Linked DNA regions of Homo sapiens: region 2 is linked to region 1. The links come from fine-mapping of genetic effects on gene expression. A gene starts in region 1. The other region holds a variant in brackets. All regions are shown on one strand. Distances are from middle to middle.

Region 1 (16,717 bases):
ATGGAAGTGTCATGATTTAGTCTATTTGTGCTAGTACAACAAAATATATCAGATTAGAAAATGTACAAACAACAGAAACTTATTTCTCATGTTCCAGATGCCAGGAAGTGCATGATCAATGTGTCTGCAGGTTCCATGTCTGGTGGGAGCTCAGTGTCTCCTTCCAAGACAGCATCTTGTTGCTGCATTGCCTGTGTCCTCATGTGGCAGAAGAATGGAAAGGGTCAGCTAGTTTCCTCAAGCCCTTTTATGAGGTCACTAATCCCATTCACAAGGGCCCTGTCCTCATATACCAATCACTTCCTAAAGGCCCCAATTCTGAACACTATCACATTGGCAATTAAGTTTCAACATATGAATTTGGAAGGAACACATTCAGACCATACAATTTCACAAGATCAAGAAGGAATACAGGACAAAGGTGAATTTGGTATAGCCTAACTCATGCACTGCTGCAAGGGACTTTGGGAATATTTTTTACTTTGAGTCAGAGGGCAAAAACCAGAGACAAGAAAGAACAGAGGAGCAAAGGAAAGCCTAAAATATTCATTGTCATGACCTAGGATGTTACAGGATTTTGTGGCACACGGACTGATGTCTATTCTGTGCAATTCACTGACCTCCAAGAAAAGTAGCAGAAAGAGAGTTTTCAGATAAGAGTTTCAGGGACCCTGGAAACAAGTTAATATTAACTAGCCCAGTTCTTCACCAGGAAATGAGAAAGGAGATATCTTTATTTTGGTCATATTGGATAGTTTTAGTAGATACTTGGAGACTTTCTCAATAAAGTACTACAGAGCTAAATGAATGACAGTGATTAATGTCTAAGAAATTGTCTCTTACTCAGGGGTCTTCAAGAACACGGCCTCAGACAGTGGGCAGACTCATGAGACAGCTGTCCCACCAGGCACATCCCACAGCAAATGACCAAATCTAGGCAGACTTTGCTCTCCTCTGGCCTGTTCCCCAACCCTAATAGCCTTGTCATCCATCAAGAGTCAGCCTCATGGACAGTGGGACTTGGTATGCTTTCTTGAAGTGTACTCTCTGGAATTTCACTTCCAGATCGTAGAACTGTTCTGTAGATACCACCTTTCTCAGCCCCCTTCTATTTGTGTTAAGTTTATAATTGTAGTCTCATGATTCTCCTCACATCAGAAAAAGATAAGAACATTTTAGTGCTAAATTGTTCCTTGTGGATAAGTAAATAAATAAATAAATCCTTGAAGGTAAGACTTGAAATCAGAGAAAACATAAGATCCAAACACCCAATCACGGTCTTGTAAATCAATTTTTTTTCATGCTTTTATGCTGGTTAGTGATCAAGTTGCAAAATTTCCCAAAGTTGCCTTTATCACAGGCACTTCAATGCAAGCGTAGTGGCCAGCTTAAGGTCATCTCTTCGACCCTGAAATCACCAGCTGAAGACTTGTGGGAGTCAATAGAGATTGGTTTGGGGTAAGAGTAAAACAAATCACATGAGCATATGGTATTAAAGCAATTTGGTATACAGACAACGACATTAGCTTACTTTACAAGAAAAGGTAGTAGAAGCTCTCTTTGTATGCATCTACCTGGTGATAACTGTGCTCCTGGACACAAATGTGTGTAATTTTTTAAGTTGCATCTGGCTCAGGGGCTACATCAAAAATTCCAAGGGAAATGAGCAAGAATCTTATCAAGATACTACCAAAAGGCTGTTCTCCATTGCTTAGAAATATGGGAAAAGGAATGTCCACAGTAAACTGAAGAGATGCATACGAAATCTCAGAAGGAATCTCTTAACTCCTAAAAATGTCTTACACGTGGAATGCAATCTGATACAAATATAGGCAACAGACATGAACAGACACCCACCAAATAAGATATATAAATTATAAGAAAGCGTATGAAAAGATACTCAACATCATATGTCATTAGAGAATTGCAACCTAACACAAAAATGAGATACCACTGCACACCCATTAGAATGGTGAAAATCCTTAACACTGACAACTAATGCTAGCAAGAATGTGGAGCATCAGGAATGCTCATCCATTGCTGGTGGGGATGCAAAATGGTACCGACACTTGTAAGGCAGTTTGACAGTTTCTTATAAAACTAAACATATTCTTACCATATAATCCAGCAATTATGCTTCACTGTATTTACACAAATAAATTGGAAACTTACATCCACACAAAAACCTACTTCTAGGTTAGATCTTTATAGCAGTTTTATTCATGATTATCAAAACCTGGAAGCAGCCAATTTGTCCTTCAATAGTTCAATGGATAATGAAATATTATTCAGTGCTAAAAGAAAAAAAAGTGCTATCAAGCCATGAAAAGACATGGAGGAAGCTTAAATGTATATTACTAAATGCAAGAAGTCGACATGAACAGGCTACATACAGTGTGATTCCAACTATCTGACCCTGTCAGAGTCAGGGTGCACAGAGGGATTGACAGACAGAAGCAGATTTTTAGGGCAGATGACACTAAAATGGTGGTTATATATCAGAATACATTGGTCAAAACTAAGAATGTGCAAGACCAAGAGTAAACTGTGAACTTTGAGTGATAAAGATGTGTCAATGCAGATCAATGATTGTAATAAATGTACCATGTGGTGCAGAATGGTGATAGATGGGGAGTCTGTGTATGTGTGGGAGTGGGAGTATATGAGAACTGTCTGCACTTGCCCTCAACTTTGTTGTGAAGCTAAAACTATCATAGAAAATAAAGTCCATTTTAAAAACTAAATGAGATAACATACGTAAAGCACCTGATACATAGTAAAGGGCTCAATTAATATATTAGAGCTCATATGCAGAGCTTTCTTTGTGCAAGGAGATGTGCCATATGACATCTTGGTCTGATTTCAACTGATTATTCCTTAAAATAAATATCTGGAGTGGACTCGTATGGATGGGTCAAGTGTGTGAAAATTTAAAATATTTTGTCAGATACTCACCAGAAATTTGCATAAACTTACACTTCCACGGATAACACACCTGTCTCCCCACATCTTCACCAACACTTAGTAACTTCAGTGAATCTAATATTTGCTAAACCACTTGTGGTTTTCAAACTGAGTTTAATGAAGGGCTAATGTTCTTTGTAATGCAAGAGAAATCCCCAAGAAAAGAAAGCAGCTTGTTAAAAATATGTCAGTCTACCTATTTTCTTCTTAAACATTGGAGTTCCAAGAGCTCTTGACTTGACTGGCACAAAGTTCCAGTTTCATCTGAGGACTCAACTGGGGAAATATCTACTTTCAAGCTCACTTTCATAGTTGTTGGAAAATTCACTTCCTCGAAGCATATTGGACTGGGAACCTCAGTTCCCCTTTGACTGTTGGCTGCCCTCAGTTCATTACTATATTGTCCTGTCCAGCATGGCAGGTTGCTTCATCCAGCCCAATGAGAAAGAGGAAGTGTAAAACAAGATGGAAGTCACAATCTTTTCTAACCTAATCATGGAAGTAATATTCCATCATTTTGGTCCAATTATACTGATTAAAAGCAAGTTACTAGGTTCAGCACACACACAAGGGAATGAATACCAGGAAGCAGAGATCACTGGATTCAACTTAGAGGCTGGCTACCATACCATCATTGTCAGACTCCAGAGGAAATGGTTGAGTGACATCTATGTGATCTCCCCCAAAAATAACTGACAAACAGAATTCAGTAAGAAATAAAAAAGACATTTTGCTAAAGCCTCCTCCTTTCTCACTTTGAAGGTCTTGCCTGGAAAGACAGCCAAGTTGAGCTCATATAACCCAAAAGCTCTGGCCCTAGTTCTCCCTGTATGGTGGAGGGGATGGCCCATTGTTCTTTACTTCTGAAAACTGGCTCTTCAAGTACACTTCAAATACCTAGGATCCTACTCATATCCGTGCTATAGATGAGAAGAAAATTGCTTCTCCTTGGCAAACAGCTTTGGCCTGGGCAATGATTCCAGCCTCTCATTACTATGGGAAACTTTCTAGTATTTTCATTTTTGTGGTCACTGTTCTCTTCTATTTCCTTCTTTGTATTAGTCTATAAGCACTAACTTTCAGAAGCACTAAGACATTCTAGAGTCTTGATTGTTCACTCATCCTTCCATTTCTTTATTCAATAAGCATGTATTAAGTTCCTATGATGTGTCAGATGTTGTGCAAATTCTTATGGTAATAAAACGATGTATGAGACATAAACACTTTATTTAGTCAAACACTCAACAATGTTTGAACATTTGCTCTGTACAAGGTGCTAAGGATCAATAAAGGAGTAGTCCAGTTTAAGACAACACAACAAAAACAAACTCTTCACTCCACTGGCTGTAACACCTTTTTACTGAGATCTTCATGGCACAACTTCTTGAACAGGTGTTGTTTTTAAGAGTCGCTCTCTTCACATTTTTCTTCTATTCCTCAACACACAAATGAATTGTGTGTTGGACTTTCCAGTTGAACTTTCAACCCAACTATTTGTGGAAATTGCTCTTACCAAATTACTTACAATGTTGCCAAAATCAATAATCAATTATTTTCCTATTGCATTTGATCAGCAGCATCCAACATAGTGAACCAAACTCTTCTTGAAACACTTTCTTCAACTTGACTTTTACAAGGCCATCTCCTTGTAATTTTTCTCCCTCCTGCCACCAACTCCTACTCAGCATATTTAGCTGGCCCCTCCTTCTCTGTTCAACTTGTAAATATTGATATGTGTATTCCAGGATTCAGTCCGGAAACTTTCCCTATTATCCATGAATATTCTTATAACTTATTTCGTCTAGTCATGTGCCTTTAAAACTTATTCTATGCTACTCATGACCTCTCTAGGACTCAAGCACAAGGGGTGTAATTATCCTAAAATAAGCCAGGAGTTTAGTAAGCTGGCCAAGAAGAGGGATTTTCCTTTTCCCAGCATGAGAGACTGTGCCTAGTACAGCTCCCTGCAAAATGGGTGGCTTTCTCCCCTAAAAAAAGGGAAACCCTTTGCATGAGCCCCAAGGACTCTAGATGCTAGGCAGGTGATTTTTCCAGACAATCTTGTGAACATCTGGAACCTAAATCTAGACTGTTTCACACCAACAGCCTGTGTGTTCCTCCACTGATAAAGCTGTATCCTTGTGCTCACATGATAAAAAATTATAACAAGGGAGACTATTGTTCCTACACTGGAATGCAGACTCCCATTGTGAGCCCAGCATTTCCTGACCATTTATGCATCAGTATTAAATAGGAGGATGGAGAAATCATGCTGTCTATTTTTTTGCTGATCAGTAATCTTTGTGAGCTTTCCTAATACCGCTTTTTTTTTTCTGAGCATAGACAGGGGACTTTATTGGTGGTACACGACAAGGTGGGGTTCCCTAGGCCCCTCCCTCTTCAGGGGGTCTGCATGGAAACTGCATGGAGGGGAGAATCTCAGTGTGGTGGGGGACTGAGTGTGGCAGGGACTCCCCAGCAGCTGAGGGCCTCTCTTTTCCTCTCATGCTCTCGCGGGGCTGGTGGCCCAGAGGTCTTACTCCTTGGAGGCTATGTGAGCCATGAGGTTCACCATCCTGTTGCTGTACCCAAATTCATTATCATATGAGAAAATGAGCTTAACAAAGTGGTCACTGAGGGCAATGCCAGTCCCAGGATTGAAGGTGGAAGAGTGGGTGTCAATGGTTAAGCTGGAGGAGGCAACCTGGTTCTCAGTGTTGCACAGGATGCCCTTATGGGGGCCTTCTGATGCTGCTTCACCACCTGCTTGATGTTATCATATTTGGCATGCTTTTCCTGAGGGCAGGTCAGGTTCATGACCAACATGTTCGTGGTGGGGACCTGGAATGCCATGCTAGTGATCTTCCCATGCAGCTCATTGATATACTTGCCCACAGCCTTGAGAGTGCCAGTAGATGCAAGGATGATGTTCCTTTGAGCCCTGCAGCTGTCATGCCACAGTTTCACAGAGGGGCCGTCCACAGTCTTCTGGGTGGCAATCATAGCATTTACTGTGGTCATGAGTCCTTCCACTAAATCGGAGTTGTCATGGATGATCTTGGCCAGAGATGCTAAGCAGTTGGTGGTACAAGAAACACTGTTGATGATCTTGAGGCTGTTGTTATATTTCTCATGGTTCATACCCATCACAAACATGGGGCTGTCAGCAGAGGGGTTAGAGATGATGATCCATTTAACTGGCCCCTACAAATGAGCCACACACTTCTCCATGGTAGTGAAGACGACACTGGAGTCTATGATGTACTTGGTGCCAGCATTGTCCTATTTGATTTTGGTGGGATTTAGCTTTTGGAAGATCGTGGTGGGATTTCCATTGATGACAAGCTTCCTGTTCTCAGCCTTTACGGTGCCATGGAATTCACCACGGGTGGAATCATACTGGAATACATAGACCATGTAGTATGGAATTTGTAGACTATGAAGGGGTCATTGATGGTGACAATATCCACTTTACCAGTTATAAGTAGCCTTGGTAACCAGGCAACCAATGGGGCCAAATCCATTGACTCTGGCCTTCACCCTTACCATGGTGTCTCAGGGATGCGGCTGGCGCTGCACAAGAAGATGCGGCTATCTGTCGAATGGGAGGAGCAGAAAGCTACAGCATATTATTTAACCCATAGTTATCATATTGAGAAATTCTTCACACACTCTGATGTCAATAGGTGGTGACTCGGGTGGGCACCACTTGACATAGCAGGCTGACATTCCCTGAGCATGTGGACAATTCAGTTGTCTCAGTGTCACTTGTTTAAAAGACAATCTTTTTCCCTATTGAATTTGCTATTGTCAAAATCAATTGGCCATATGAATTTAGGCCATTAACCCACACATAGGCAAAACTTCCCTCAAAATAAAATAAAGGCCTAAATTTAAGGGCTAAACTATACACCTCTTAGAAGAAAACATAGATTATTATATTCATGATCTTGAATTAGGCAAAAACCCAACTTTTCCTGGTTAAAAAATAGTTGAAAAATGAAACAGGATCAAAACTAAAAATGTTGGCATTTAAAAGCCACCAATAAGAAAATGAAGAGATAAACCAGAGACTGAGAAAAAAAATTCAAATCATATATTTAATACAGGACTCATATCCAGAATATGAAATACACTTACAACTACGCAACAAAAAGATAAATAACCCAATTTTAAAATAGGCAAAATATTTGAATAACCATTTCATCAAAAAGGTGTAGGAATAGACAATAAAATACATGAAAAGATGGTCAGCATCATCAGTCAGCAGGGACATGCAAATCAAAACTACAGTGAGACACCACTTCTTACCCACTAGAATGCTATAATAAAAAAGGACAGTAACACCTGGGGGAAGTGAAATAATGACGTGGAAAAACTAAAACACTCACGCATTGTTGATGGGACATGCAGTCACGTTGGAAACCAGTTTGGCAGTATCTTAAAATGTTGAAGATATATTTACCATATGACCTAGCACTATCACTTCTAGCTATCTACCCAGAAGAAAAAAACCTATGTCCACACAACACATGAATGTGAATATTCATAGCAACTTTATCCATAATTGTCCATAAAGTAGAAACACTCAAATATGTATCAACTGATAAATGAATAAACTAATGGGAGCTATCCATACAATTTAATAGGATTTGTCCCCTAACAGGATTAAAATATTGATATGTGCTGCCACATACATGAACCATAAAAGTATATTAAAGTAAATGAAAGAAGACAGATACAAAAGACCACATATTGCATGATTTCATTTATATGGTCTCCAGAAAAGGCAAATCTGTAGAGTCAGAAAGTCAATTAGAGGTTGCCTGGAGCTGGGGACTGGGAAAAAGTGGTGGTGACTGATGAACATAGGGGATTTCTTAGGAATGATAGAAATGTTGCAAAACAGGATCATGGTGATGGTCACACAAGTCTAAAATTTTACTGAAAATAATTTAACTGCACACTTAAAACAAGCGAATGTTATGTCAATTATACCTCAGTAAAGCTGTTTAAAAACAAAAGAAATTTAGTAGTGTGGCCCCCATCAGTCTTGCCCTTTGTTTAATTTCTCACTTTCTTTAGGGCTTTTATTTATCGGTTCCACTCAGAGACTCCAAGAGACACTGGCTGAAATCTATCAGCCTCCAGAACTCTCAACAGCATAGGGAATGTCTGGCCCCATCCGAAAGGTGATGGGATCTGTAAGGTGCACTCTAGCATGTGCTATAGCAGGCAAAGGTGTGTGATGCACCTGGGTGGTTCAGATAGTGCTCCACATGTCTCAGCAAGACCCAGGGCCTGTAGCTATCGGAGAACAAGCTGCTACATCTTGCAGCACAGGGCCAACCTTTTCTAGGCAAGTGGGTTTGAAGCATTGGTAGTCAGGTCCCAAGTAGCAGTTGAATGTTTTCAACATGGGAGGAGGGCAAGACCTAGAGTGGGGTTTCAAAGCAAATCATTTGTAGAATATTACTTCCAACAACTGCAGAAAGCATTCGTTTCAAGTGTTTATGGGATGTTCACCAACACAGACCTTTTGCTGCACCATAAAACAAGTCTCAATATATACACAAGGATCAAAATCATACAGAGTATATGCTATGGCCACAGTAGTATTTAATTAGAAATTCAAAACAATAAGATATCTAGAAGATTCCCAATTTCAGAAAACAAGCTACATACTCTGTTGGTATCGGTCACTTGGGTCAAAGACGAACTCACAAGAAAAAATTCAAAACATCATTAACTGAGTGATGATAACCCGATGCATCAAAATGTTGGCTGCAGCTGACACAGTGCTTAGAGAGAAACTTACAACTTTAAATGCCTGTAGTGGAAATGAGCAAAGGACTAAAGTCAATTATATATGCTTTTATAATAAGAACCCTGAAAAAAAGGAGTAAAACAACCCCCAAGTTAATAAACATAAGCTGATAATAAAAACAAAGAAAATCATGAAATAGAAAAATGAACAAACAATAGAGACAATCAATGGTCAATCCTTCTGTACTCCATGAACAAAACTTCAGTTCAGAATGATTTTATATTTAAATATATATCCAGAACCACAGAGATCTTAGAAGAATAAATTAAGAAAATATAGGAATAAAATGAAAATTCTGTGGGAATAAAAATCAGAAAGTAGCTGCCTACCAGGGTAAATTGGGGGCAGGGGAGGGAATTAACTAAGAACAGGCAGAAAAGAACTTTCTGCAGTGAAGGAAATGACCAATACATTTTTTGGGTGCTACTTACATGGGCATACATAACTGTCAAGGTTCATCAAACTAAACACGAGCTCTGGGCATTTTAGTGAATATAAATTACACCTGATTACACCTGGATTTTTTTTTTTTTTCTTTTTTGAGACGGAGTCTCACTGTGTCGCCCAGGCTGGAGTGCAGTGGCGCAATCTCAGCTCACTGCAAGCTCCGCCTCCAGGGTTCACGCCATTCTCCTGCCTCAGCCTCCTGAGTAGCTGGGACTACAGGCGCCCACCACCAGGCCCAGCTAAGTTTTTGTATTTTTAGTAGAGATGGGGTTTCACCGTGTTAGCCAGGGTGGTGTTGATCTCCTGAATTCATGATCTGCCTGCCTCGGCCTCCCAAAGTGCTGGGATTACAGGCATGAGCCACTGCGCCTGGCCTCGATTTTTTTAAGTAGAGGAAAGTATCTTGGAGAGCTTATGGTGGTGAAATTTGGGCAGTTCTCAGGTATACGCTCAAGGAGCATTCACAGCATCTTCAGAAATTTGCTGAGAATGGTTTTGTACCCAAAAATATGGGAAAAGTTCAAACATCTATGATAAGAGTCATTGGAGCATACAACCACAAATCCCCACTCCTGTGGTACAGGCCATATCATTAAATGGTTAACACTAGATAGCTTTCCTTCAATGGTGTTCTTCATCTAGGAACCCAGAGCTCTCTGGGGGAAAATTGCAATTGAGGTTTTGGATATATTGAATAGGTAAGTAAGTCACCTCCGTAAAACTTAGTGATTGGAGCTGTCACCATTGCAAATTTCTAAACTTTGCAAGACAGCAGCAACATTTCAAATGACACTCAGAGAGAGGAGATAACGAGCTAATGTGGATTTCCTTCCAAACATATTTACTGCACAAAAGCAAAGTTCACATTACACTTGGAGATTTCTCTCAGCCTAGTTTAAGATCACAGATTGCGGATCCCCGATATCTGGTATCAACTGACCAGTGTCCTGTTAAGGCTAAACCTAAGACTCTTTACTGCATTGCTGCCTTAGAATTGGACTTCTCTTCCTGTTCCTGGGAAGAATTAGAGATATAGACTAAAGGTCACTATTCTTCTGAGAAAAGGGATGCTGGAGGAGGCAGGAGAAATGAGTATGTGGCAGGAGTTCAAGGGGATAAGGGGCAAGTCAGAAGCCACGGAGCATAAAGGCCCAGGGCTCCCTTAGGGGATGAAGTGACAAGCACCCTGACTCTTTTGTCCAGCTTTAACAATCTAACAGTAAGAGCTTCTTCATTTTCTTTCAGCTACTCCTGGCAATGGTGGAGACATGGAATTTTTGCAAAAAAAATGGGGTAGAGGAAAATAAGACATCTGTGTGAGTATATAACCATTTGATCTCTTTTTTTAGCCCTCTCCAGGGTCACCCTAGAATCAGATCTGCTCCCCAGCATCTTCTGTTTCCTGGAGTGTGTTGTCTGCTACTTTGGATTGGCCATGACAGGCTGGAGCTGCCTTGTGACAGGAGCAGGAGGGTTTCTGGGTTAGAGTATCATCCGCCTCTTGGTGGAGGAGAAGGAGCTGAAGGAGATCAGGGCCTTGGACAAGGCCTTCAGACCGGAATTGAGGAAGGAATTTTCTGGTAAGTAAACTTGATTCATGGGTGTGTGGTTCCATTTTAGACACTGCATGGGTGCAGGAAGGTGGACCTTTTCTAGCAAGTTACAGAGAACAGTAGTCAAATCTAAGCCAATCTCACATCGATAGTCTTAAAAAAAAAGAAAGAAAAGAAAATTAAATAGTATAAAATGGCATAGTGTGAAAGATTCTGGATGGGCTATCCAGAGACTGGATTCTGTCCCTGACCCAGAACTTGAGAGGCAACCACTTTGGACACCAGCCCCCTTTTCTTCTCATCTAGAAAATCCCACATCAGTTATTTTTCTTGTCTGCAACTATTTTAAGTTCTGAAGCTTTTTGTCTCGGCAATTGCTTTGCAACATTCACAAAGGACACCATTTACCTGAAGACCTCACCAGTGGGTCCCTGCCTCTCTAGACTTCCCTGAGCTTTGTTTTGTTTTGTAGCAACCTTGGCACCTTTGGTGAAGGCAAAATAAAAGGAAGTGAAGTTATAGATGAGTGTGTAAGTGTGTGTGTTTGTGTGTGTGAGAGAGAGAGAGCAAAAGAGAGAGAAAATGAGGGGGAGAGAAAATCAGAGAGAGAGAATGAGAAAGAGAAAGAATGCATGAGAAAGAGTGAGAGAGAGAGGGAGAGGATAGGAGAAAGAGACAGCATCAGTGAGAGAGAGAGAGCATGCACAAGTGCACAGCACAGAGCAGAGACAGAGTAAGAGGCAGTATAAGGCCGGATATCCCTCTTTTCGATTTTTCATTTATGGCTTTATTTTTTAACCATTTGCTTCTGTTGCTCAATACCCCCAAGAAATTGCAGAATTTGCTGTAGCAACTTCTTGTGCAAATAACTCCATGAGGAAAGTAGAAAAGGAGTCATATCCAACTGGACAATGAACTATCAAGATCCAGAAACATAAAACAACTTGCTAAGACCATCTGGTTAATGTGTAGCAGACCTCAGACCAGAGCTTCATCCAGAAGCATCATCACTTTACTCTGGAGCTGATCCTTGGCAAAGTGGGTCTTCAGTCTCTCCCTTTGCCTCTCTGGGTGCCCAATTCCCTGTCCTCCTCCCCAACCCAGGGGGTGGGTGAACTGTGTGTCTACACCTGGGCTCTGGCTGTGCAAAGAGTCATGCCCTGCCCTCAGAGAAGCCCCTACTTGACAGCACTCAGGGACCACCACACCCAAAATTCTGCTCTTCTTTTGCTCTTTTCTGACCTCTTCCAATTTCCTCCACCCTCTGTTTTAATGGTGTCTTTCATAAACAAATACTAACACAAGACCAAGATGAAATGTTTGTAATCCTTATGTGTCACCAATATTTGCAATCTAACACCTAATACCAGAAAAAAAGCAACGCTCAGCCTAGAGGAATAGTTCTCCTATGGTGAAAAGGTAGGGGATATAATGGATGGGCAGTAGCCTGTATAAAGATAAAAACAGAGAATCCTTTCAGTGTTCTTTCTGTGCCAGGCACTGTGCTACATGTTTTGCATGTGCTGACTCATTTGTTACTCATAGCAACCCTATGAGATTGTTAATATTATTATCCTCCTTTCTCACAGATTAGGAGACAGACATAGAGAGGTTAATTAACTCGTTGAAAGTCTCAGAGTTAGAATATGGCAAAGCTGGATTTGAACCCAGACAGTCTAGTGCGGCATCTGTGCTCTTAAGCAGTAGTTCACCTAGCAGCTTGGGGAATGAGGGAGCTATGGCTCCATCCACAAAGTCCCCTTTCCTGGTCTCTAGATCCCTGTGAACTCATTAAGGAAAAGCCTTTTCTCTTGGCTTTAGACTTCTTCAGCTTTGAAATGGCAATTCCTTTGAGCCAGTCTGTCTGAAGTTGGCAGCAAAGGGGAAGCAGAGGAAGGGAGCAGGAAGTGCAGAGGTGGAAATACAACCAGAGAAAATTCCACTCTCAGGCTGTCACCCATGTCCTCCCCAGCAGCCTCTTCCCTGCCTCCCCCATAGCATGGCCTTCTTGGAGTTGCCTGGCAATAGGAAGGGGCTGGGAGTAGACAAAACATGGCAGAGGCATTAGGAGAGGAAGTGGTCCCGCCTGTATCCCAGGAAGGAATTGCTCCGGTCTTGAATTTTTCGCTCTGAATTTTACTCTCACTGTTCTTTGGCCTTTGTTGCCAATTTCAGTTGAACTGGCTTATTCTTACTCTTTCTCAGAAAAGTTTATTCTAAACAGCCAGTCCTGTACCTGGTGTGCAGGGTACGAGGCTTGGAGGTGGAGTGGGCAAGTTTGAGCCTCTACTAGAAACGCGACCTTTGATCTGTCCCTTAACCTCTCTGAACCTCAGTTTCCTCACCAGTAAAGTGGGACTCAGAAAACCTATCTCATGAGATTGCTGTAAAAGGAAATAAGCAAGCTGTGAGTCATATGCAGATTATAAAGCACAAACAAGTGTAGTGTATTTATCCAAGCTTCATGTACCACAGTGTTCATTGCGTGGGCTAATTCCAGGTGACAACTTTACTGGCAGCATCACTTCTTGTGGATTTCAGAGGAGCGTGAAGACATTAAAGTTTTAACCACTGCCCTCAGCTAGACAGCTGGAATATCAGTTCATTGGTCGCTAACTTTCAGCATTGCTATCTGCTTTTCAAATCTGATGAGTTTTTCATGGAAATTCCTCATTTAAGCCCATCAGCAATTCCCTAGTAATGGCTCCACTCTCCTCCCAATTGCCCAAGGAGGAAACCATAGGGGTGATTTTGTCTTCTTTTTCTCTCAGCCCAGATCCAGTAGGTATCAGGACCTTCAAGGTAAGGTCTGAAATTCAAACCTGTTTTATCTCTCCCCTGCTCTGCTTCCACTGCTGGACCCTGCTTCCAGTCCTCATCGAAACTTTGGCACAGATACTCTGATTAATATCTTAATTACCTTACTTTCTCATATCCCCTATACCAGTCCATTTTATATCCTCAAGCCAATGTTGACTTCCTACATTACAATTCTGCTTCTGTTTCTCTGTCTCTCTTTTTTTATTAACAGGGTTTGGCTGTGCCACCAAGGCTGGAGTGCAGAGGTATGATCTCTGCTCACTGCCACCTTCACCTCCTGGGCCCCATTCATCCTCCTGCTTCAGCCTCCCGAACAGCTGGGACTATGGGCAAGCACCACTACGCCTGGCTAATTTTTGTGTTTTTAGTAGAGACGGGGTTTCACGAGGCTGTCCAGGCTGGTCTTGACCTCCTGGGTGCAAGCAATCTGCCCACCTCAGCCTCCCAAAGTGCTGGAATTACAGGTGTCAGCCACCATGCTCTGCCTGTTTCTCTACTTATTCCAAATATAAATAAGGGATTTTCTTTGACATGGTGCTGGAGACCCAAAATCATGATCCCGCATCACCAGCAGAATTAAATTCAAATTTTCCCTCTTATACCCAACTCTCCACAGTCACCTTACTCTCTTTAAATATTTTAGTGAGTCTCCCATGACTCTAGAAATGCTTATATTCCAAGCACACCTGACAGCTCATTGCTCAGATTACTTTTCTTAAATGAGATGGGGTAGAAACAGATGTTTGCTCTTTCCCAATAAATTGCTACATATTCTGACTTCTGTGTCCCTGTTTACTTGTTCCTTCCATGGAATGTACACCCTCCACTCCAACACCCTGACTCTAGCCATCCTCGAACATCTATGTAACAACATCTTTATCAGTTTCAGAAATCGTTTCAGAAATCGTTCTGATAACCTGACCGGTGTTCACACAGAGCTCCAGAACAAGACCAAGCTGACGGTGCTGGAAGGAGACATTCTGGATGAGTCATGCCTGAAGAGAGCCTGCCAGGACATGTCGGTCATCATCCACACCACCTCCATCATAGACATCATCGGTGTCACTCACAGAGAGTCCATCATGAACATCAATGTGAAACGTACAGTAGCCTGGGGAGGAGATGAAGCAAGGTGGGGAATTAAGGATCACAAAGAAGGACAGGAAGGGAAAAGAAGTCTCTCCACTGAACACCTGCTATGCTCTGGACCAAGTGTCTTTGCTGATCACTACCAACTGGGGGAGTTCAAAGCTGCTATCTTCAGTTTTTTACATGAGGAAACCAGTGCTACAGATGGCAAGTAACTTGTCCAAGGCCCCCCCAGGTAAGTAAGTAAATAGGAGAGTTAGACTTTAAACTCACCCCTGTGTGACTCCAAAGGCTGTGGACACTCTTTCTATAGTGGCTTCAATCAAAAGTCAACTAAATTCCAACTTCAGACTCTTGATATCCCTCTATGGGACAGAATCAAACCTTCCAGGTGCCACCATAGTCATCATTGTGCTACACACAAGTCACCTTGTGCGTAGGCTTATGATAATGAAATGGGAAAAATTCCCTCATCCCCCTCACCAGGCATGCAATGAGGGTGTGGCTTGCTTCTTCAATGCCTCACTGCTCAAACCTCTGTGGGAGCATAGAGACAGGCAGGCTGTGGGACTCCGACACCATAGCAGTGTCTGGGGTGAATGTTTACAGCTCCTGAAGCCTCAGTGGGTGTGTGTTACATGGTGCTCTTTTAGTCTTGCTCTTTTAGTTTTGACATCTACAGGCGGCTTGTTTTAACCAGCTAAATTAGACCCTCTACCTTGTCGGAAGGTCAGAGGGCTTTCTGTATCCTGGGTTCTTGTTTTGGTTACCAGAGAAATTAGATCACACCTGGGCTTGGAGAATGAGTGCCAGGTTTTGTTGAGTGAAGGTAGCTCTCAGCAGCTGGGGGATGCCAGAAGGGGAGGGTTTTCCCATGGAGTTGGCCGTTCAACTGCCCAACTCTTCTCCGACCATCCCAGGGAAACTCCACATCATTCTGCTGGGCGGTGTGTTCCTCCCAACGTCCAGCTGCCCATGTGTTCCTCTGCTGATGTGTGCCTCCACTGATGTGCCCCTCCTGACATCCAGCCCCTTCTATCTTCTTCTGCCAATCTGCTCCTCTCATTGTCAGGCAGTTTGTGTGTGTCCTGCTAGGGTCTTGGGGGTTTTATAGGCAGAGAATTGGGGCATGGCAGGCCAGGGTGGTCTTGGGAAATGCAACATTTGGGCAGAAAATGTTTGTCCTCATCTAGGTCCCTGGGAGTAGAGCCATAGCCAGGGACCACACCCTCCTTCACCCAGCACTTCCCTTCCCCCCTCCCATATCATTTAAAGGGACCATGCTCTTCCCTTCCCAGCACTCCCATATCAAGAACATTCAGAGCCCTCCTGCCCACCTCAAAGAAGTTCTCTCGAGAGAATTAGTAAAGTTGGTCCACAGAGGTCTGTCAGGACTGAATTATCCAGCACATGCTTTCTCACAATATTTTCTTAAGAAAAAGGGTTTCCCAGTGTCCAGAATACACAGTCTCTTCAGCTCGCCACAGGGCCTGCTATTACAGAGCCATTCCCAGCCAGGTGTCCAACATGCACCTTCATTCAATCCTCATCCCTTAAAGTCTTGGTGGTCTTTCCGAATTGCAGCTTTCCAAACTACTTTAAATTCAGACACATTCCCTTAAGGAATCTCGTCATGCAGTCTCACCCTCTGATTCCCAGAGCCCAGTCTCTTCAGCACCACAGCACCCCACCACTGGCCTAGCCCTCCACATTCAGTCTACTCTGACACCTTTTCTAAAGCAACTAATTGCTTTTGGGTCTCCAGCACCATCTCAAAAAAAAAAAACCTTTCCAGTTTCTACTTACGCATACCTTTAAGTACCTCTACAGTGTGAGGAGGGTGTTAAGAGTAACCAGTGTTTCATTTGAATTATTAACTCTCCACAGCTCCCAACAACAAGAAAGGTAAAATGACAGGGGAAGTGTTAGAGGCATCTGTTTCCTAAACCATTATCACTCCAAGACTTAGAAAATATTTCACAATGTTGGTCATTTCCCCCTTGAAGGTAAACTACTT
Region 2 (16,717 bases), 28 kb before region 1:
CAGAAAGTAGTTGCCTACCAGGTAGATTGGGAGTAGGGCAGGGAATTAGCCAATAACAGGCAGAAAAGAACTGTCTGCAGTGACGAAAATGACCTATACATTTTTGGGTTGCTACTTACATGGACATATATAACTGTCAATGTTCATTGAACTGAACACTTGAGATCTGGGCATGTTAATGAATATAAATTACACCTCTTTTTTTAGATAGAGGAAAGTGTCTTGGAGAGCTTATGGTGGTGAAATTTGGGCAGTTCTCTGGCATAGGCTCAAGGAGCATTCACAACATCTTCAGTTCAGAAATTTGCTGAGAATGGTTTTGTACCCAAAAATATGGGAAAAGTTCAAACATCTATGATAAGAGTCATTGGGGCATACAACCACAAATCCCCACTCTTGTGGTACAGTGTTACAGGCCAAAAAGAATGAGGGTCGTGACCAACTCAGTATACCACTGGAGGCTATTTGAGCAAACAGAAAACTGTTCTCATGAAAGCAGGACGTTTTAAAACTGACAAACTATGTCTGCTGCCAGAAGGGGTGCTGAAGGCCGTCACACCCCCAGTGCAGTGTTCCTTGTGATTATCTATAGGAACCTCTGAAGCTGTTGTATAAAGAAAGCAATTATGTGTACCTGTGATAAATCAAGCAGCTGACCAACCATTATCTCTCCCTACCTGCTCTTTCTACCTCATAAATACAAAGGGCTTTAGAAGCTCAGAGCTGCCTTTGCTCACTAGAAGCAAGGAGCCCCCTGACCTCTTGTTTTAAAACATATCCTTTTGTCTTTGTCTTCCTTTCTACATTTGACCCCCTTCGTTCATGCCGTAGTAACTGACAGCAACAGTACAGGCCATATAATTAAGTGGCTATCACTAGACAGCCTTCCTTCAATGATGTTCTTCATCTAGGAACCCAGAGCTCTCCAGGGTAAAATGGCAACTGAGGTTTTGGATATATTGAGTGGGAAAGAAAGTCAACTCCATAAAACAGTAATTGGAGCTGTCACCATTACAAATTTCTAAACTTTGCAAGACTGCAGCAGCATTTCAAATGACACTCTGAGAGAGGAGAGAATGGGCTCATGTGGATTTCCCTCCAAACATATTTACTGCACAAAGGCAAAGTTCACATTACACTTGGAGATTTCTCTCAGTCTAGTTTAAGATCACAGATTGCAGATCCCAGACAACTGGAATCAACCAACTAGTGTCCTGTTAAGGCTAAACCTAAGACCCTTTACCACACTACAGCCTTACAATTGGACTTCTCTTCCTGTTCCTGGGAAGAATTAGAGATATACATTAAAGGTCACTTTTCTTCTGAGAAAAGGCATACTGGAAGAGACAGGAGCAATGAGTATGTGGCAGGAGTTCAAAGTGATAAGGGGAAAGCCAGGAGCCACAGAACATAGAACTCCAGGGCTACCTTAGGGGATGAAGTGACCAGCACTCTGACTCTTCTATCCAGCTTTTTAATAATCTAACAGTTGGAGTTTCTTTATTTTCTTTTAGCTACTTCTGGCAATGGTGAAGACATGGAATTTTTGCCAAAAAAAATGGGGTGGAGGAAAATAAAGCATTTGTGTGAGTATATAACCATTTGATCTCGTTTTCAGCCCTCTCCAGGGTCAATCTAGAATCAGATCTGCTCCCCAGCATCTTCTGTTTCCTGGCGAGTGTTTCCTGCAATATTGGATTGGCAATGACAGGCTGGAGCTGCCTTGTGACAGGAGCAGGAGGGTTTCTGGGTTAGAGGATCATCCGCCTCTTGGTGGAGGAGAAGGAGCTGAAGGAGATCAGGGCCTTGGACAAGGCCTTCAGACCAAAGCTGAGGGAGGAATTTTCTGGTAAGTAAACTTGATTCATGGATGTGTGGCTCCATTTTAAACCCTGCATGGGTGCAGGAAGGTGAACCTTTTCTAGCAAGTTACAGAAAGTTGTAGTCAAATCTAAGCCAATCCCACATTCACAATCATCATAAAAAGAATATTAAATAGTATAAATGGCATCATGTGAAAGACACTGGACGGGGTGTCCAGAGACTGGATTCTGGCCCTGACCCAGAACTTGAGAGGCAGCCACTTTGGACACCAGACCCCTTTACTTCTCATCTAGAAAATCCCACATCAGTTATTTTTCTTGTCTACAACGTTTTTATGTTCTGAAGCTTTTTGTCTTGGCAATTGCTTTGCAACATTTATAAAGGACACCATTTACCTGGAGACCTCACCAGTGGGTCCCTGCCTTTCTAGACTGCCCTGAGCTTTTTGTTTTGTAGCAACCTTGGCATCTTTAGTGAAGGCAAAATAAAAGGAAGTGAATGTATAGGAGAGTGTGTAAGTGTGTGTGTGTGCCAGAAAGCGAAACAGAGAGAGAAAATGAGGGGGGAGAGAAAATCAGAGAGAATGAGAAAGACAGAGAATGCATGAGAAAGAGTGAGAGAGAAAGAGAGCATCAGTGATAGAGAGAGCCCGTGCACAGGCACACAGCACAGAACAGAGATGGCAAGAGGCAGTATGAGGCCAGATATGCCTCATTTCGATTTTTCATATATGGCTTTATTTTTTAACCATTTGTCTCTGTTGCTCAATAGCCAAGAAATTGCAGAATTCGGTGTAGCAGATCCTTGTGCAAATAACCCCATGAGGAAGGTAGAAAAGGGGTTGCATCCAACTGAACAATGAACCATCAAAGTCCAGAAACATAAAGCAACTTGCCGAGACCATCTAATTAATGTGTAGCACAGCTCAGACCAGAGCTTCCTCCAGAGGCTTCCTCACTTGACTCTGGAGCTGATGCTTGGCAAAGTGGGTCTTCAGTCTCTCCCTTTGCCTCCCTGGGTGCCCAATTCCCTGTCCTCCTCCCCAACCCAGGGTACTGTGTGTCTACATGTGGGCTCTGGCTGTGTAGAGAGTCATGACCTGCCCTCAGAGAAGCCTCTACTTGATAGCACTCAGGGACCACACCCAACACACTGTTCCTCTTTTGCTCTTCTCTGACCTCTTCCGATTTCCTCCACCCTCTGTTTTAATGGTGTCTTTCATAAACAAATATTAACACAAAACAAGATTAAATGTTTGTAATCCTTATGTGTCACCAGTATTTACAATCTAACACGTAATACCAGAAAAAAGCAATTCTCAGCCTAGAGGAATTGTTCCTTATGGTGAAAAGGCAGGGAATATAATGGATAGGCAGTGGCCTGTATGAAGATAAAAACAAAGAATCCTTTCAGTGTTCTTTCTGTGCCAGGCACTGTGCTACATGTTTTGCATGTGCTGACTCATTTGTTACTCATAGCAACCCTATGAGATTGTTAATATTATTATCCTCCTTTCTTACAGATCAGGAGACAGACACAGAGAGGTTAATTAACTCACCGAAGGTCCCAGAGTTAGAATATTGCAAAGCTGGATTTGAACCCAGACAGTCTAGTGCAGCATCTGTGCTCTTAAGCAGTAGTTAGTCTAGCAGCTTGAGGAAGGAGGGAACTATGGCTCCACCACAAAGTCCCTTTTCCTGGTCTCTCTAGATCCCTGTGAACTCATTGAGGAAAAGCCTTTTCTCTTGGCTTTAGACTTCTTCTGCTTTGAAATGGCAATTCCTTTCTGCCAGCCTGTCTGAAGTTGGCAGCAAAGGGGAAGCAGAGGAAGGGAGCAGGAAGTGCAGAGGTGGAAATACAACCAGAGAAAATTCCACTCTCAGGCTGTTACCCGCATCCTCCCCAGCAGCCTCTTCCCTGCCTCCCCAAACTGCAGGGCCTCCTTGGAGGTGCCTGGCAATAGGAAGGGGCTGGGAGTAGACAAAACATGGCAAAGGCATTAGGAGAGTAAATGGTCCTGTCTGAACCCCTGGAAGGAATTGCTCCGGTCTTGAATTTTTCGCTCTGAATTTTACTCTCACTGTTCTTTGGCCTTTGTTGCCAATTTCAGTTGACCTGGTTTATTCTTACTCTTTCTCAGAAAAGTTTATTCTAAACAGCTAGGCCTGTACCCGGTGTACAGAGTACAACACTTAGAGGTGGGGTGGGCAAGTTTGAGTCTCCACTAGAAACGTGACCTTAGATCTGTCCCTTAACCTCTCTGATCCTCAGTTTCCTCACAATAAAGTGGGACTCAGAAAACCTGTCTCATGAGATTGTTGTAAAATGAAATAAGCAAGCTGTGAGTCATATGCAGATTATAAAGCACAAACAAGTGTAGAGTATTTATCCAAGCTCCAGGTACCACGGTTTTCATTGCGTGGGCTAATTCCAGGTGACAACTTTACTGTCCGCGTAATGTCTTGTGGATTTCAGAGGAGCGTGAAGACATTAAAGTTGTAACCACTGCCCTTGGCTAGACAGCTGGAATATCAGTTCATTGGTCACTAACTTTCAGCATTGCTATCTGCTTTTGATATCTGATAAGAGTTTTTCATGGACATTCCTCATTTATGCCCATCCACAGTTCCCTAGTAATGGCTCCACTCTCCTCCCAATTTCCCAAGCAGGAAACCATAGGGGTGATTTTGTCTTCTTTTTCTCTCAGCCCAGATCCAATAGGTACCAGGACCTTCAAGGTAAGGTCTGAAATTCAAACCTGTTTTATCTCTCCCCTGCTCTGCTTCCACTGCTGGACCCTGCTTCCAGTCCTCATCGAAACTTTGGCACAGATACTCTGATTAATATCTTAATTACCTTACTTTCTCATATCCCCTATACCAGTCCATTTTATATCCTCAAGCCAATGTTGACTTCCTACTTCACAATTCTGCTTCTGTTTCTCTCTCTCTTTTTTTTTTTTTTTTTTTTGAAACAAGGTTTGGCTATGCCACCAAGGCTGGCATGCAAAGGCATGATCTCTGCTCACTGCCACCTTCACCTCCTGGGCCCCATTCATCCTCCTGCTTCAGCCTTCCAAGCAGCCAGGACTATGGGCATGCACCAATACGCCTGGCTAATTTTTGTATTTTTAGTAGAGATGGGGTTTCATGAGGTTGTCCAGGCTGATCTTGACCTCCTGGGTGCAAGCAATCTGCCCACCTCAGCCTCCCAAAATGATGGAATTACAGGTGTGAGCCACCATGCTCTGCCTGTTTCTCTACTTATTCCAAATATAAATAAGGGGTTTCTCTGATATGGTGCTGGAGACCCAAAATCATGATCCCGCATCACCAGCAGAATTAAATTCAAATTTTCCCTCTTATACCCAACTCTCCACAATCACTCTACTCCTTTTAAAAATTTTGATGGGCTTTCCATGACCCTAGCAGTGCTTATATTCCAAGCACACCTGACAGCTCATTGCTCAGATTACATTTCTGAAATGAGATGGGGTAGAAACAGATGTTTGCTCTTTCCCAATAAATTGCTACACATTCTGACTTCTGTGTCTCTGTTTATTTGTTCCTTCCATGGAATGTACACCCTCCACTCCAACACCCTGACTCTAGCCATCCTCAAACACCTATGCAACAACATCTTTATCAGGAAACTTCCAAGCCAGTTTCAGAAACCATTCCGATAACCTGTCCCGTGTTCACACAGAGCTCCAGAACAAGACCAAGCTGACAGTGCTGGAAGGAGACATTCTGGATGAGCCATTCCTGAAGAGAGCCTGCCAGGACATGTCGGTCATCATCCACACTGCCTCTATCATATATGTCATCGGTGTCACTCACAGAGTCCATCATGAATGTCAATGTGAAAGGTACAGTAGCCTGGGGAGGAGATGAAGCAAGGTGGGGAATTAAGGATCACAAAGAAGGACAGGAAGGGAAAAGAAGTCTCTCCACTGAACACCTGCTATGCTCTGGACCAAGTGTCTTTGCTGATCACTACCAACTGGGGGAGTTCAAAGCTGCTATCTTCAGTTTTTTACATGAGGAAACCAGTGCTACAGATGGCAAGTAACTTGTCCAAGGCCCCCCAGGTAAGTAAGTAAGTAGGAGAATTAGACTTTAAACTCACCCCTGTGTGACTCCAAAGGCTGTGGACACTCTATTGTGGCTCCAGTCAAAAGTCAACTAAACTCCAACTTCAGACTCTTGATATTCAGCCACTCTTTGCCTCTATGGGACAGAATCAAACCTTCCAGGTGCCACCATAGTCATCATTTTAAACCTTGTGTGTAGGCTTATAATAATGAAATGGGAAAAATTCCCTCACCCCCCTCACCAAGCATGCAATGGGGGTGTGGCTTGCTTCTTCAGTGCCTCACTGCTGAAACCTCTATGGGAGCATACAGGCAGGCAGGCTGTGGGACTCCGACACCATGGCAGTGTCTGGGGTGAATTGTACAGCTCCTGAAGCCCCAGTGGGTGTGTGTTACATGGTGCTCTTTTAGTCTTGCTCTTTTAGTTTTGACATCTATAGGCGGCTTGTTTTAACCAGCTAAATTAGACCCTCTACCTTGTTGGAAGGTCAGAGGGCTTTCTGTATCCTGGGTTCTTGCTTTGGTTACCGGAAGAATTGGATCACACCTGGGCTTGGAGAATGAGTACAAGGTTATTTTGAGTGGAGGTAGCTCTCAGCAGCTGGGGGATGCCAGAAGGGGAGGGTTTTCCCCTGGAGTCGGTTGCTCAATGACCCAACTCTTCTCCAACCACCCCAGACAAACTCCACATCATTTTGCCCATGGGTATGTTCCTCCCAAAGTCCAGCTGCCCGTGTATTCCTTTGCTGATGTGTTCCTCTGCTGATGTGTGCCTCCACTGATGTGCCCTTCCTGACATCCAGCCCCTTCTGTCTTCTTCTGCCAATCTGCTCCTCTCAATGTCCAGCAGCTTGTGCATGTGCCTGCTAGGGTATTGGGGGGTTTTATAGGCAGAGAATGGGAGCATGGCAGGCCAGGGTGGTCTTGGGAAATGCAACATTTGGGCAGAAAATGCTTGTCCTCATCTAGGTCCCTGAGGGTGCAGCCCTAGCCAGAAACCACACCCTCCTTCACCCAGCACTTCCCTTCCCCGCTCTCATATCATTTAAAGGGACCACACTCTTCCCTTCCCAGCACTCCCATATCAAGAACATTCAAAGCCCTCCTGCCCACCTCAAAGAAGTTCTCTTGAGAGAACTAGCAAAGCTGGTTCTCAGAGGTCTGTCAGGACAGAATTATCCAGCACATGCTTTCTCACAATATTTTCTTAACAAAAAGAGTTTCCCAGTATGCAGAATATGATCTCTTCAGCTCACCAAAGGGCCTGCTATTACAGAACCATTTCAAACTAGGTGCCCAAAGTGCACCTTCATTCAATCCTCGTCCCTTAAAAGCTTGGTGGTCTTTCCGAATTGCAGCTTCCCAAACTACTTTAAATTCAGACACATTCCCTTAAGGAATCTCGTCATGCAGTCTCACCCTCTGATTCCCAGAGTCCAGTCTCTTCAGCACCATAGCACCCAACCACAGGCCTGGCCCTCCACATTCAGTCTACTCTGATGCCTTTTCTCATGCAACTAATTGCTTTTGAGTCTCCAGTACCAAAAAAAAAAGAGAAGAAAGAAAGAAAGAAAGAAAGAAAGAAAGAAAGAAAGAAAGAAAGAAAGAAAGAAGAAAGAGAAAGAAAGGAAAGAAGGAAGGAAGGAAAGAAGGAAGGAAGGAAGGAAGAAAGAAAGAAAGAAAGAGAGGAAGGAAGGAAACAGAAAGAAAAAAACCTTTCCAGTTTCTACTCGCTCATTTCTTTCAGTACCCCTACAGTGCAAGGAGGGTGTTAAGAGTAACCAGTTTTTCATTTGAATTGTTAACTCTCCGCAGCTCCCAACAACAAGAAATGTGAAATGACAGGGGAAGTGTTAGAGGCATCTGTTTCCTAACCATTATCACTCCAAG[G/A]CTTAGAAAATATTTCACAATGTTGGTCATTTCCCCCTTGAAGGTAAACTACTTCCGCATTTTCTCTGCCACCAGATTAATTGTTGAAAACATGAGGCTGTCTCTCCAGAAACTCAAATTCCACAGAGACTTTAAACAGGGCCAAGAATAAAAAAATAAGAAAAAATAATAATCCTTTGCCTAGGAAATTCCTTCCTTCTTCAAGGGAAGGCACTCCGAACACCTCCATGAGCTTCGCTTCCACACAGCTCAGGGGAGGCGGCAAGGTCCTCCCAGTACAGGTGTTACCAGCAGAGGGCACACTCCTCTCCCCAGTCCTCCACCAGGCTCCACAGGAAACGCCAGGGCAGGGTTTAAAGGAAGGTTTATCACCCCGACTTTACATAACCAGGTAAACAGAGTCACAGCCAGAATTGGAAGCAGCTTTCCCAGGGAATGCACAATCAGGAAAAGAGTGTGGGTTTCCAGCATCTCCCCACAAGCCACTGTTCGCTCAATGACTCCAGGAATGGTCCTGGTGACAAAGTTTTACCAGTCCACTCAAAATGAGAAAAATACCAGCAATTATATGTATATTTAAGAGTACATTTCAGAGTGTATATTGCTTATATACAATTGTGTATGGGTGTGTGTGTGACATAAATTCTTCCAGTGCCCTTTTCTGCCTAAGGACTGGGACTGTCCATATTCTCAGAGTATATCTTCCTGATTTGTTAGTTTTTCAATAATCTGCCATTAATGGTATTGATGTCACATTGTAATTTTTCAACATCATTACTTGACAGAATATAAAGTGATAATTCTAGGTCCTTTGCCAAAATTACAGTATATACACACACACACACAGACACACACATCCATATACCCAAAAGTCTAGAAATTCTTGCTCCCCAGAACCCACATGTCAGTTTCTTTTCATTTTGGTGTTTTTCCTATGGCTGTAGCATGGCCCAGTCTCAGTCAGAGTCACATAAGAATATACCCCGAGTCTGTTATAACCACTGCACTTGGGAATAAATATCTATGCACGTTGTTGGGGCCCCTTAGTTATATTTCCTGACACTGACAGAATGCTTTTCGTAGGTAGGTACCCAGCTTCTGTTGGAGGCCTGTGTCCAAGCTACAGTGCCAATCTTCATCTACACCAGTACCCTAGAGGTAGCCAGGCCCAATTCCTACAAGGAAATCATTCAGAACGGTCATGAAGAAGAGCCTCTGGAAAACACATGGTACGCTCCATACCCACACAGCAAAAAGCTTGCTGAGAAGGCTGTGCTGGCGGCTAATGGGCTGACTCTGAAAAACGGTGGCACCTTGTACACTTGTGCCGTAAGACCAATGTTTATCTATGGGGAAGGAAGCCCAATCCTTTCTGCCGGTATAAATGAGGCCCTAAACAACCATGGAATCCTGTCAAGTTTCAGCAAGTTCTCCAGAGTCAACCCAGTCTATGTTGGCAACATAGCCTGGGCCCACATTCTGGCCTTGAGGGCCCTGCGGGAGCCCAAGAAGGCCCCAAGTGTCCGAGGACAGTTCTACTATATCTCAGATGACACGCCTCACCAAAGCTATGATAACCTTAGTTACACCTTGAGCAAAGAGTTCGGCCTCTGCCTTGATTCCAGTTGGAGCCTGCCTTTATCCCTGACGTACTGGATTGGCTTCCTGCTGGAAATAGTGAGCTTCCTGCCGAGGCCAGTTTACACCTGTCGACCGCCCTTCAACCACCACAGAGTGACATTGTCAAATAGCGTGTTCACCTTCTCTTACAAGAAGGCTCAGCAAGATCTGGCATATAAGTCACTTTACAGCTGGGAGGAAGCCAAGCAGAAAACCATGGAGTGGGTTGGTTCCCTTGTGGACTGGCACAAGGAGACCCTGAAGTCCAAGACTCAGTGATCGAAGGATGACAGAGATGTGCATGTGGGTATTGTTAGGAGATGTCGTCAAGCTCCATCCTCCTGGCTTCATACAGGTGACAAGGGCAAAAGTCCAGGTCCTGCTGCCTCCCTTTCACATAATAGCCAACTTATTGTCTTCCTCATGTCATCAAAACCTGCCCAGTCCCTGGCCCAACCAGAAGCTTTTTGTCCTAATCATATACCAGAGGAAAGACAATGTGATTTGCTTTTTCCATATCTCAGTGGCTGATTCCGAACAATTGTAGTCTCTTCTAACTTGAGGTCATTTTTAACTACTAGAGCTCCATTTCTACTCTTAAATGAGAAAGGATTTCTTTTCTTTTAAATCTCCTATTTCTTCACGCAGTCCAATGTAAAGAGCAATAAATGTTTTAATCCTTAACCTGGAGGGAGGTGTAGTTTCTGTTAATACCTAGTTCCCTCCTTTTCTTTTCATTTCCAGGTATCACCATCTTTTACCTAGGAGAGTAGCATGGAGCTGGGGAAGGGGGGTTGGCAGAGTAGTGGGAGGATCTGGAAGGGCGATGAAGACTGAATAAGCTCTACTATGTTTCAGGCATCTACAACATGACCTACATGTGACATATATTCCCTCACTCAATACTTATCAGAAACCTATCACGTGGGGGTGACTATTCCCATTTTACCCTTAAGGAAACTTGTTCACCATCACACTAATGATTAGTGGCTAGGCCTGCTACCAGGAAGTTGGTCTTGAAAGACTTTATCTTTCCCTAGAATCATGCAGCCTGAACTGGTCTTATCAGTGGTACAGCAGAGCACTGGAGCATGGGATGCTGATACTTGGGAGAGCCCCAGCTTTTTGGGGTTACCTCTTTCTTGCCCAATCTGGTACAGGGGAATCTCTAGAACCAAGGATAATCCCTGAGGGGCATCTGAAAGGGTTTGCATGCCTTTCCTAATGGGCCTGAGCAGGGCAGAGAGAAACAAAAATGCATCAGGCCTCCACCCGCTTCAGTGTCAATTTATTTGAAGGTCTCTAGAACACTCCTGGCTATATGTGTGTTGGCCATTCTGATCATACATAACCCTGCATTTCACCCTTTCAAATCACACAATGAGCCACACCATGGGTTCCTGGACAAGTACAAAAAACAAGTGTGAACTTCCTCCAAAATATACCTTCTACTCAGCCCAAAATTAGAAGTCTACTATCCCACATCCCCAGATTTAACTGTCTCTCTCTTCTTTCTCCTTCTCTTCTCTAAATCATATCCTTTCTTCCTTTATTCTTCCATATCCTTAGCCTCTTTCTTCTCTCCATCTCCTCTTTAATCACTGGTTCTCTCATTCTTCTCAATTTCCCTGAAGAGAGGAGGCCAATCAAGACAAGTTTGGGGACTTCAGTGATGACATAGTCATTAACCAATCAATGAAAACACACTCAAAAGAAACACTGTCAGGGGCATCAGGGACAGAGTTGAACTGAAGCAGGTGAGGAGGTTGCTATGGGTCCAGAGTGTGGGGTGGAAGCTGTCTCCCTCTGGACCTTTGTGTATCACAGCCATGATGAGAGTCACACCCAACATCAAGATGGCTTTTTTCTTACACAGGAAATTAACAGATCATTACTCAGTTGAATTTGATTACCACAATGGAGTTAGTTTCAGTGTTCATTCTGAAGAGAAAAGGGAACCACATTCTGGCCCAGATGAACAGGTTACCACCATCTTCAAAAGCCCAAGGAACAGATGATCATCACCAGCGTCAGGGGGGAGTGGCCCCAGGCAGTGGGGTAAGGTGAAAAATGCAACACCCAGTGGTCACTTCCAAGATGGCCGAATAGGAACAGCTCCGATCTGCAGCTCTCAGAGAGATTGATGCCGAAGATGGGTGATTTCTGCATTTCCAACTGAGGTACCTGGTTCATCTCATTGGGACTGGTTGGACTGTGGGTGCAGCCCACAGAGGGCGAGCTGAAGCAGAGTGGGGCATTGCCTCATCCAGGAAGCACAAGGGGTTGGGGGATTTCCCTTTCCTGCCAAGGGAAGCTGTGACAGGCTTGCCTGGAGAAAAGGTACACTCCTGACCAAATACTGTGCTTTTTCCACAGTCTTAGCAACCAGCAGACCAGGAGATAACCTCCTTTGCCTGGCTCAGTGGGTCCCACGCCCAGGGAGCCTTGCTCACTGCTACTGCAGCAGTCTGAGATAGACTGGCAATGCTGTAGCTTGATGGGGGGGAGGGGCGTCTGCCATTGCTGAGGCTTGAGTAGCTCACAGTGTAAAGAAAGAGGCTGGGAAGCATGAACTAGGTGGAACCCACTGCAGCTTAGCAAGGCCTACTGCCTCTATAGCTTCCACCTCTGAGGGAAGGACACAGTAGAACAAAAGGCAGCAGACAGCTTCTGCAGACTTAAATGTCCCTGTCTGACAGCTCTGAAGAGAGCAGTGGTTCTCTCAGCACGGCATTCCAGATCCGAGAACAGACAGACTGCCTCTTCTAGCAGGTCCATGACCCCCATGTAGCCTGACTGGAAAACACCTCCCAGTAGGGGCTGACAGACACCTTAAACAGGTGGGTGCCCCTCTGGGACAAAGCTTCCAGAAGAAGGATCAGGTGGCAATACTTGCTGCTCTGCAGCCTCCACTATTGATACCCAGCCAAACAGGGTCTGGAGTGGATATCCAGCAAACTCCAACAGACCTGCAGCTGAGGGGTCTGACTGTTAGAAGGAAAACTAACAAACAGAAAGGAAGAGCATCAACATCAAAAAAAAGGACGTCCACACCAAAACCCCATCCATAGGTCACAGTCATCAACATCAAAGACCAAAGGTAGATAAAATCACAAAGATGGGGAGAAACCAGAGCAGAAAAGCTGAAAATTCCAAAAAAGAGTGCCTCTTCTCCTCCAAAGGATCGCAGCTCCTCACCAGCAAGGGAACAAAACTGGACGGAGAATGACTTTGAGGAGTTGACAGAAGCAGGCGTCAGACCTTCGGTAATAACAAACTTCTCCGCGCTAAAGGAGCATGTTCTAACCCATTGCAAGGAAGCTAAAAGCCTTGAAAAAAGGTTAGACGAATTGCTAACTAGAATAAACAGTGTAGAGAAGACATTAAATGACCTGATGGAGCTCAAAACCACAGCACGAGAACTTTGTGACACATGCATAAGATTCAACAGCTGATTCAATCAAGTGGAAGAAAGGGTATCAGTGATTGAAGATCAAACTAATGAAATAAAGTGAGAAGACAAGATTAGAGAAAAAAGAGTGAAAAGAAATGAACGAAGCCTCCAAGAAATATGGCACTATATGCAAAGACCAAATCTACATTTGTTTGGTGCACCTGAAAGTGACAGGGAGAATGGAACCAAGTTAGAAAACACTCTTGAGGATATTATTCAGGAGAACTTCCCCAACCTAGCAAGGCGGGAAAACATTCAAATTCAGGAAATACAGAGAACACCACAAAGATACTCCTCGAGAAGGGCAACCCCAAGACACATAATTGCCAGATTCACCAAGGTTGAAATGAAGGAAAAAATGTTAAGGGCAGCCAGAGAGAAAGGTTCAGTTACCCACAAAGGGAAGACCATCAGACTAACAGCGGATCTCTCGGCAGAAAACCTGCAGGCCAGAAGAGAGTGGGGGCCAATATTCGACATTCTTAAAGAAAAGAATTTTCAACCCAGAAACTCATATTCAGCCAAACTAAGCTTCATAAGTGAAGGAGAAATAAAATCCTTTAGAGACAAACAAATGCTGAGAGATTTTGTCACCACCAGGCCTGCCTTACAAGGCTCCTGAAGGAAGCACTAAACATGGAAAGGAACAACCACTGCAAAACCAGCCACGGCAAAAACATGCCAAATGGTAAAGACCATCGACGCTATGAAGAAACTGCATCAATTAATGGGCAAAATAATCAGCTAACATCATAATGACAGGATCAAATTCAAACATAATAATAACCTTAAATGTAAATGGCCTAAATGCCCCAATTAAAAGACACAGACTGGCAAATTGGATAAAGAATCAAGACCCATCAGTGTGCTGTATTCAGGATACCCATCTCACGTGCAAAGACACACACAGGCTCAAAATAAAGGGATGGAGGAAGATCTACCAAGCAAATAGTAAGCAAAAAAAAAGCAGGGAATGCAATCTCCTAGTCTCTGATAAAACAGACTTTAAACCAACAAAAATCAAAAAAGACAAAGAAGGCCACTACATAATGGTAAGGGATCAGTTCGCCAAGAAGAGCTAACTATCTTAAATAAATATGCACCTAATACAGGAGCACCCAGATTCATAAAGCAAGTCCTTAGAGACCTACAAAACAGACTTAGATTCCCACACAATAATAATGGGACATTTTAATACCCCACTGTCAATATTAGACAGATCAGTGAGACAGAAGATTAACAAGGATATCCAGGACTTGAACTCAGCTCTGCACCAAGCAGACCTAATAGACATCTACAGAACTCTACACTCCAAATCAGCAGAATATACATTCTTCTCAGCACCACATCACACTTATTCTAAAATTGACCACATAATTGGAAGTAAAACACTCCTCAGCAAATGTAAAAGAACAGAAATCACAACAAACTGTCTCTCAGACCACAGTGCAAACAAATTAGAACTCAGGATTAAGAAACTCACTCAAAACTGCACAACTACATGGAAACTGAACAACCTGCTCCTGAATGACTACTGGGTAAATAACGAAATGAAGGCAGAAATAAAAATCTTCTTTGAAACCAATGAAAACAAAGACACAATGTACCAGAATCTCTGGGACACATTTAAAACAGTGTGTAGAGGGAAATTTATAGCACTAAATGCCCACAAGAGAAAGCAGGAAATATCTTAAGTCGACACCCTAACATCACAATTAAAAGAACTAGAGAAGCAAGAGCAAACAAATTCAAAAGCTAGCAGAAGACAAGAAATAACTAAGATCAGAGCAGAACTGAAGAAGATAGAGACACAAAAAAACTTTCAAAAAAATCAATGAAGGCCGGGCGCGGTGGCTCATGCCTGTAATCCCAGCACTTTGGGAGGCCGAGGCAGGCGGAACACGAGGTCAGGAGATTGAGACCATCCCGGCTAAAACGGTGAAACCCCGTCTCTACTAAAAATACAAAAAATTAGCCGGGCGTAGTGGCGGGCGCCTGTAGTCCCAGCTACTTGGGAGGCTGAGGCAGGAGAATGGCGTGAACCCGGGAGGCGGAGCTTGCAGTGAGCCGAGATCCCGCCACTGCACTCCAGCCTGGGCGACAGAGCGAGACTCCGTCTCAAAAAAAAAAAAAAAAAAAAAAAATCAATGAATCCAAGAGCTGTTTTTTTGAAAAGATCAACAAAAAAGATAGACTACTAGGAAAACTAATAAAAAAGAAAAGAGAGAAGAATCAAATAGATGCAATAAAAAATGATAAAGGGGATATCACCACCGATCCCACAGAAATACAAACTACCATCAGAGAATATTATAAACACTTCTATGCAAATAAACTAGAAAATCTAGAAGAAATGGATAAATTCCTAGACACATACATCTTCCCAAGACTAAACCAGGAAGAAGTTGAATCTCTGAATAGACCAATAACAGGTTCTGAAATTGAGGCAATAATTAATAGGCTAGCAACCAAAAAAAGTCCAGGACCAGATGGATTCACAGCCGAATTCTACTAGAGGTACAGAGGAGCTGGTACCATTCCTTCTGAAACTATTTCAATCAAAAGAAAAAGAGGGAACCCTCCCTAACTCATTTTATGAGGCTAGCATCATCCTGATACCAAAGCCTGGTAGAGACACAACAAAAAAATAGAATTTTAGGCCAATATCCCTGATGAACATCAATGTGAAAATCCTCAGTAAAATACTGGCAAACCGAATGCAGCAGCACATTAAAAAGCTTACCCACCATGATCAAGTAGGCTTCATCCCTGGGATGCAAGGCTGGTTCAACATACACAAATCAATATTCGTAATCCATCACATAAACAGAACCAACAACAAAAACCACATGATTATCTCAATAGATGCAGAAAAGGCCTGTGACAAAATTCAACAGCCCTTCATGCTAAAAACTCTCAATAAACTAGGTATTGATGGAACATATCTCAAAATAATAAGAGCTATTTCTGACAAACCTGCAGCCAATATCGTACTGAATGGGCCAAAACTGGAAGCATTCCCTTTGAAAACTGGCACAAGACAAAGATGCCCTCCCTCACCACTCCTATTCAACACAGTTTTGGAAGTTCTGGCTAGGGCAATCAGGCAAGAGAAAGAAATAAAGGGTATTCAATTAAGAAAAGAGGAACTCAAATTGTTTCTGTTTGCAGACAATGTAATTGTATATTTAGAAAACCCCATCCTCTCAGCCCAAAATCTCCTTAAGCTGATAAGCAACTTCAGCAAAGTCTCAGGATACAAAATCAATGTGCAAAAATCACAAGCATTCCTATACATCAATAACAGACAAACAGAGAGCCAAATCATGAGTGAACTCCCATTCACAATTGCTTCAAAGAGAATAAAATACCTAGGAATTCAACTTACAAGGGATGTGAAGGGCCTCTTCAAGGAAAACTACAAACCACTGCTCAACAAAATAAAAGAGGGCACAAACAAATGGAAGAATGTTCCATGCTCATGGATAGGAAAAATCAATATCATGAAAATGGCTATACTGCCCAAGGTAATTTATAGATTCAATACTATCCCCATCAAACTACCACTGACTTTCTTCAAAGAATTGGGAAAAAAATACTTTAAATTTCATATGGAACCAAAAAAGAGCCCACATAGCCAAGACAATCCTAAGCAAAAAGAACAAAGCTGGAGGCATCACGCTATCTGACTTCAAACTATACTATAAGGCTACAGTAACCAAAACAGCATGGTACTTGTACCAAAACAGACATGCAGACCAATGGAACAGAACAGAGACCTCAGAAATAACACCACACATCTACAACCATCTGATCTTTGACAAACCGGACAAAAA

Which allele goes with the higher level. Alleles are on the strand shown, and positions count from the first base shown. SD is a standard deviation of normalised expression in the study named.
For the expression in neutrophils of the gene that starts at base 8,625 in region 1, G is the high allele of the variant in region 2 and A is the other (large effect, 0.86 SD a copy in BLUEPRINT).

What was found.
Region 2: its variant is fine-mapped to the expression of LINC00622 in neutrophils (BLUEPRINT, PIP 0.95).

Annotation. Positions count from the first base shown.
Region 1 is chr1:119,590,667-119,607,383 of GRCh38, forward strand. It overlaps LINC00622 (long intergenic non-protein coding RNA 622), which reads right to left and starts at 8,625. Exons shown (of 1, transcript NR_036540.1): 1 at 7,036-8,625. It also overlaps the pseudogene GAPDHP33 and the pseudogene HSD3BP5. RefSeq lists an enhancer at 14,047-15,246.
Region 2 is chr1:119,562,362-119,579,078 of GRCh38, forward strand. It overlaps the pseudogene HSD3BP4. Among named protein-coding and RNA genes, the nearest start is that of LINC00622, 29 kb to the right of the region's middle. The variant G/A (reference allele first, on the strand shown) is at 7,808.